Linked DNA regions of Homo sapiens. The protein of the gene in region 2 interacts with the protein of the main gene of each other region in a pairwise test. Each region holds a gene or a part of one and is shown on either strand. Other genes may lie near its edges.

The links.
Region 1: the proteins of IRAK3 (region 2) and NTRK3 interact in a two-hybrid assay, tested with the Homo sapiens proteins (one large-scale study listed by BioGRID and IntAct).

The regions. Positions count from the first base shown.
Region 1 is NC_000015.10:87,865,240-87,868,739, reverse strand, and holds part of NTRK3 (NT-3 growth factor receptor isoform a precursor), read left to right. Parts: 3' UTR 1-3,500. UniProt on the Homo sapiens protein: Receptor tyrosine kinase involved in nervous system and probably heart development.
Region 2 is NC_000012.12:66,241,214-66,244,713, forward strand, and holds part of IRAK3 (interleukin-1 receptor-associated kinase 3), read left to right. Parts: intron 1-3,272; coding exon 3,273-3,471; intron 3,472-3,500. UniProt on the Homo sapiens protein: Putative inactive protein kinase which regulates signaling downstream of immune receptors including IL1R and Toll-like receptors.

The DNA of each region.
Region 1 (3,500 bases), on a different chromosome or scaffold from region 2:
ACTCTATAATTCCACATTGTGGCACAACAGCCACATAGAACCTCAAAGCTGAAATTGCAACTTTTCTGCAAAATAGGGCCATTGATTACATCCAAAGTTTTGAGAAAAGGCCTTCAGGTTAGATTCAGTCACCTTCAGACTCCACAGAGTTGCTCAGCATGGTTGCAGGCGTCTTTGGAAACTTACCTCAGGGTTTTAGAATACGTTACCCTGAAGTCTGGATAACAATTTTCTCTGAGATTTTACTGATTCTAATTCCCTTTGAAATTGTTTTTCCTACTTGCCTCTTGTCTTTCATTTAAATAATAAGAATCTCCTTGCATATTCTTAGGTATTTCTTTAGGAGAATTGGAAGTTTCCAGCCAAGGACACTGTGTTTATGAATTGGAAAGATATCTTTCTGGGCTGAAAAAGGTAAAAATCATACGGAGGCAATCTTGATGACTTTATTTAAAAGCAATTATCAGCATTGTGTTTTATTCTAGGTGCTCGTGCTCATAGTGCAAACTACATTCACGTTTTTAATTATTTATGTTATGATACTTATTCGTGTGTACATATATGCGCACACACACACACAAAAGCCTCCACAATCCTACTGGTATACAAATCCATATGCCCCATTTGTGTCGCTTCCGTTGATCTTTGTGTGCATGCATTTGCAATGAAGTGTGCATCACATGTGTGATTTCTTAAAGTCATCTATAGCTCATCTTTCCTCTTATTATCGACACATACCCTTTGACTTTCTGCACTTTGGAGCTCATGAAATTAAGGCTTTTTCAAGGGAGACTACATCTTGAGTTTCTTTAAACCTTCATATTTAAAGATAGGACTGGTTTTCTTCGAGAAACAAAAACTTGATTCAGATTTTATTTAATTAATTAATTTTCTGGGGGAAATGGTACTGAATTTGTTCCTGAGTAACAAATAGTAGTAAGTGCAAATATAAATGTGAAGTAGTTTAAGCAGGTTATTGAACCTATCTTGTGGCTGAAACAAGTAGTCAGATATGAAGCTCAGACACTCAAATTGAATTAGAACGTGAACCAAAACGGTTAGCATGGGGCAGGAGAAGAGCACTGGGCTAGGAGCAAGCCTGCTAGATTGTCACTTGAGTGTCCTTAGCTTAATGTGGGCATCTGACAACTAGTTGCAGTCCTGTGCCCCTCTAATTCCAGAGATGGGGCAAGCCAATCTGTTTCTCATCCATTGCTCAAGTTGGTTATCACTGAAATATTATATACCATCTCAAGATCCTGCCCTGAACAAGTTTGCAAACATCCCCCCCACACTGAGGAGTCAGTCCCATTTTTGTTTTATGGCAGTTTATCTCTTGTGACCCTCCTTTGGAAGCTGTCCAAACTCTGAACACTTGCTGTCCATTCCCTGCTCCCCACCCCACCCTTTAAGGCCAGGGAAAAGCCAGGGAAAGCCCTATTGGCTCATCTCCCTCTTTCCTAGCCTGCACATCAACCAAGCTTGGGATTTAGCCTAGGTTTTCAGAGAGGAAAACAAGTGCGTTCTCCCAGCCATCAGTATCTTTCCAGCCCCCTGGACCAAGTGATTAGTGCCTCATTAGCGCCTCATCAGTTGCTTTTGCACAAGAGACTCTGGGACAACAAGCCTATTATAATGCCTCAGTCTGTCTTTTTGAAGTCAAACCATCCTTCTGGCTTGGTTAGGAAAGGGGAGCCTTTCTCCAAACACGTTTTCTTTTAATTTCCTCTGTTGTTTTCTGGCTGTTAACTATATGGATAAATGGTAAAACATAATTTTCATTTTTTCTAGGCCCCTATGAGAGTGGATATGCTATATTTCTATAGATGAGGAGTTCCACATGTCAGCAAAGCATTTATTTATTTAGTGAAGTGACTATAATATTGACACACAGATTTGCAGCAGCATCCAAATCTTGAGGGGGAAAAAAAAGCCTTTTTCAATCAAATGAAACCTTTTCTGTGATGGCACCAGAGAGGTTTATATCTTAAGCACAGAACTGAACCTGATAATATGCTTCCTTTCTAGAAACAAAGAGATAGAAGAAATTGCTGAAGGAGCTGGAAGACCAAACCATCTATTCCCCAAATCATTATGTATCAATAGATACTTCAACTCTGTTCCTTAAATGGCTCTGAAAAACACAAATAACCATATTTACTATTAAAAACAAATTCATAATGTCTAACCCAATCCCTTATTTTAATATATATACATATTAAAATAATCCCATGTATATATGATTATTATTATATGGGATATATATAGTTTACATATATATAGGGGTGTGTGTGTATATATATATATATATTTACATATATATGTAAATGTATACTTTTTAATGCTGGGGATAGTTCCATATTGTTTCTTTTCTTGATTCCTTCTAATATATTCAATGAGATTTATAATTTTTTTCACTTTTATTTCTTTAGGAAAGAGTTGGGGTCTATTATGAATGCTTTCTAGGATAAAATGGCAAAACAGATGGAAAGTGTGGTAGAGGGAGGATAATGGGAATAGGAGGCAGAGAACTTGCACATTTCTATTTCCTGCTGAGAGATCTTGGAAAAACATTGTCTGCCCTTTACCTCAGTTTCTTAACATACAAAATAGAACTACTATCAACCCCCTGCATGCCACAGAGGGTTATTTGAGCCCTAAATGAGATCATAACTGTTAACATACTCTGTGAACTGTACAGGGCCAGACAAATAGAGCCCACTCTCTGGGCAGTTGCATACAGTCTTGCTGGGTGCTGAGCTGAGTGACTGAGAGCCGCTTTTGAGACACATTTTGAGGCATATCTTCCCTAAATTTTTGCTGGTGTCTGTTTTTTAGAAGTTTTGCCATTAGCATTTTTTGCTTTGAGTATCTAGTGATGGAGAATGCTCTAAAAAATACAAGGAGACAGGGGGATTCTTTATCTATTTGGCTTAGTCACTGGAAAGGGACAATTAGAGTTTGTTTTCAGGCTTGGAACTCTGACATTTTGTAGCAAAATGGCATCTTCTGCTGCATTTAATTCCTTGCCATCAACTCTTGCTTTCATAAGGTTCTGTCAATTTCAACATAATGCTTTGTAAAAATAGGACTCTGTGAAACTTTCTCTATAAATTTGGTGGTATAACTAATTTTTCAGGGAGCATCTGAAGGGATAATGATTTTTAAGTGGTACCCTGTTCATGCCAGGACCAGCATTTGTACATGGGAAAATAATCTTAAGATGAGTGAAGAGCAAATGCTAGACCACACCTTTAATAGGCCCAAGTGCCAACAAAAATACGTGTGAGTGGGATTCCCACGGAGAAATGTTTCTGAATGAAAATGAAACCCTTGATAATGAATCCTGAGGCCAGAATGCCAAAGTCACAGTATTCTGTCATTTACAGCCCCTAAAAAATCCCAGGTGTTTGTGATGACAAGCCACTATTATAAGTACTCTGTATTAGTGACTACTTGGCAAGTAAAATTTTCTCAAATGTTATTTTTCATAGATCTCC
Region 2 (3,500 bases):
GAATTATCTGGAGAGGGGATGGCCTCTCTGTTAAGGTAAATAGCCTTGTGATAAAGAGTAGAACAAATCGATTGTAGAAGCATGAAATTGAGGATATGAACCATGGATATGGGTCAAAGATGTCTTTTATCTATCTCTTTGGTGGCCACAGTTGCTTGCAGGCTGCCCTTTTGCATGATATTGCCATGACTGTAGTTGTGTTAGGTTCTTAATTTTGTTAGTTTATTTTCACCCCACAGGATTAACTTACTCAGCTGACCTGCATGGAAGCTGAAGACACTTTGTGTTTGAACATTCTATTTAAGGTTGAAGCAGGGGAAAAGAATTAAGGTAGAAATTGATCGTTGAAGGGCCTTTTGCAATTTCCGCTTTCCTAAAACAGAACATCCTTCTTCCTCAGCTACCGCTAACCTTTATTTAGAACAGAATAAATCACTGGACTCAAAATTTATGTTATACACTAAAGTCAGCTGAAAAACGACTTATCTTTTCACCGATTGTCATTATTCAAATTGTAAATTCAGTACCCTAGAATAATTTCACATCTTGTTGATGGCCTTTCACTGACCCAAAGTCCTCTCTGGGTTTTATGGTGTAAGCATTGTTTGTGGTTACTCAACTCCCTTCTGCCCAACTTTCACAGAAGCTGACTCACCATTTGCTGAAAGCATCCCACCAGCTTTGCTATGGGTCAAATAAAGAATTAGATTGAAGGTTTTGTTGTTATTACTGTTGCTCTTTTCTCCCTTTTTGTACTTAAAAGATTCAGGGTTTTTTTGTGTGTGTGTGTGTGTTTCAAAAATTCAGCTTTTGCAGTCTCATGATTCTGGCATTGTCAATTATAATTCTATGCCTTTTTTTAGAGCTGTGATAGAGGAAGATGTTTAGGTGTTTGACATTGAATATCTGCCATTCAGAACATTCCCACCCTCCCCCTGTGCTGAAATGAAATGGGGCATGCAGAAGTGACTCCAAAGTTGAAGGGCAGAAGGTGGGGTCCTGGCAATGAAGGTTGGAGAACCTTTTTTTCCCACCTCGCCTCCTGGCCCACCGGCAAACTCCTGCATTCAAATGCCCCCAGGACTCTGAAACCCTCAGGGCATCTCCAGGAGCCTCAGACTTGATCTGATCCATTGAAGAGTCAACCTAGGGAAGAAGTGATTATGAACTGACAGTCTCTTCTTATCTAGAGCTGGAGAGAAGTCGGATCTGACTCTAGTCTGTTCCTCATCTGAGGTATGTCAGGATAGTCAACAGTTCTCCAAGTGAGAAAGTAAGAGTGGGTGAGGAGTGACAGATGGGGGTGTGTGAGGCCCAGGCTGGCTTTAGCAGCTGCTGGGTTCTCCAGGGAGAAGGGAGAAGGCAAGGAGAGAAATGACAACTGTGCTCATTGATACGAGCCTTGGGAACCAGGCCTCTCTGACCTTCCTTCCATAAATGCTAAGAGCACACAGCTGATAAGAGGCCCTAGAGCTCAGAAGGTGGGCTTTTTGGATTTTACAATTCCCTTGCCACCCTTAGCGGAAGGAGGAGTGAAATAAAGTTTAAAATGTGTCTTTATCCTTAAAAGACCGCGGGGTCTGGGCGCAGTAGCTCATGCCTGTAATCCCAGCACTTCGGGAGGCCGAGGCGGGTGGATCACCTGAAGTCAGAAGTTCAAGACCAGCCTGGTCAACATGGTGAAACTCCATCTCTACTAAAAATTAGCCGAGTGTAGTGGCAGGCGCCTGTAATCCCAGCTACTCAGGAGGCTGAGGCAGGAGACTCACTTGAACCCGGGAGGCAGAGGTTGCAGTGAGCTGAGATCGTGCCAATGCGCTCCAGCCTGGGGGACAAGAATGAAACTTTGTCTCGAAAAAAAAAAAAAGACCACCGGAAGTGCCTTTGTTTTTTCTGTTGTCAACTCAGCCCTAGACAAAGTCTGGACTAGAATCTTTAAGGCCTTAGCTTCATACATTGAACTGTTTCCCCCAAACTCTCTAAATAGAAGTAGGACTCTGAGTCCTCTGAACAGTAAGAACACTTGCAGTTCAGACCTATGGAACTGGGGCCTGCCCGTTAACCTACCTGTATAGGGATAGCAAAGACTTCTGGAGCTTTTGTAAGATCCAAAATTTGTTCAGAATTAAGAACTTCTTGATATCCCGTGGCTGTTGCTGTAGCACTTTTAGTAACAGCATGTCGTACTACAAATATGCCTCTTGGCATTTTGGATGGGAAGGTGTACTATTAGATGCTTTGGTTTCAGGAAATAAAGAGCAAGCTCTGAAGAGCCCTAAGCAAAGCTGGGAATTGCATGCCTTTCTGTTGGCTGCCCCACCTCCTTCTCAATATCCATCTGTTCTCTTAGAATTGATTACTAATCTTCCTCCTAGCTGCCATTTTTTGAGCATTACCAAGTGCTGGGGAGGACACTATGCACTTCGTTTTCCCCCTGCCAGAGTTCTGTTCTCCTCATTTCACATGAGAGGAGAGAGGGCACTGAGGCTTACATGGCGAAGGAAACTGTGGGTGGTCATGGAGCCAGGGAAAGGCAGAGCTCCTGGCTGTATGCAGTGGGAAATGGATCTCTCTCTTGGCTTATCCTTTCCGGTTCCTGCTTTGACAGCCCTTTGAAGGTAAAAGTAAGCCAATGCCTACCCCCAGCCAAAATGTCAGATGATTCTTAAGGTTTTTAATGTGACAACTGCTTATATTGACTATAAGCACTTTGCCTTTGTCTCTGCAAACATTTGTATTTTAAATAAGACTCAAAGACCAAAAAACAGAGATGAAACCATGGGATAGGGCTGCCATGAGGGCAGGGACTACCAAAGAGTCCTCAAATCATTCCAAGTTAGTGGCTCTGCGCTCATAAGCTAAGCATTTCACAGCACAGCTCTTGCACATAACAGACACATAATCAGCTGATTAAAACTCAGTTCATGTTCTCCGTAAGTGTAAGAAAAGCACAAGGAAAGCTGTTTTGGTTAACTTCAGTTTCTCTTAGTGAGAAAGCATCAGCTTTATCCAGCAACTTCACATATGTATCTTTAAGTTTGAAATGCCCACTGTTCATAGGTCAGGTTTTTATTCTAGGTTGCAGATAACACTTGGATTTGTACATTAAGAAAAATGAAAGAATGTTCTCCAGTTCATGGAAATTTGTTTGGCTTTATTTTGACAGTGTTTCGAATTAACCAGATATGAAGAAGGTGAGTTTATAGTATGTTTGTTTACACTGAAGTGCCTTTATGATATTTTGTCTTGTTTGTCCCTGATCACAATTTTAGTGCAAACATCCTTTTGGATGATCAGTTTCAACCCAAACTAACTGATTTTGCCATGGCACACTTCCGGTCCCACCTAGAACATCAGAGTTGTACCATAAATATGACCAGCAGCAGCAGTAAACATCTGTGGTACATGCCAGAAGAGTACATCAGACAGGGGAAACTTTCCATTAAAACAGATGTCTACAGCTTTGGAATTGTGAGTACCAACTGCCAGTTAACAAAGGA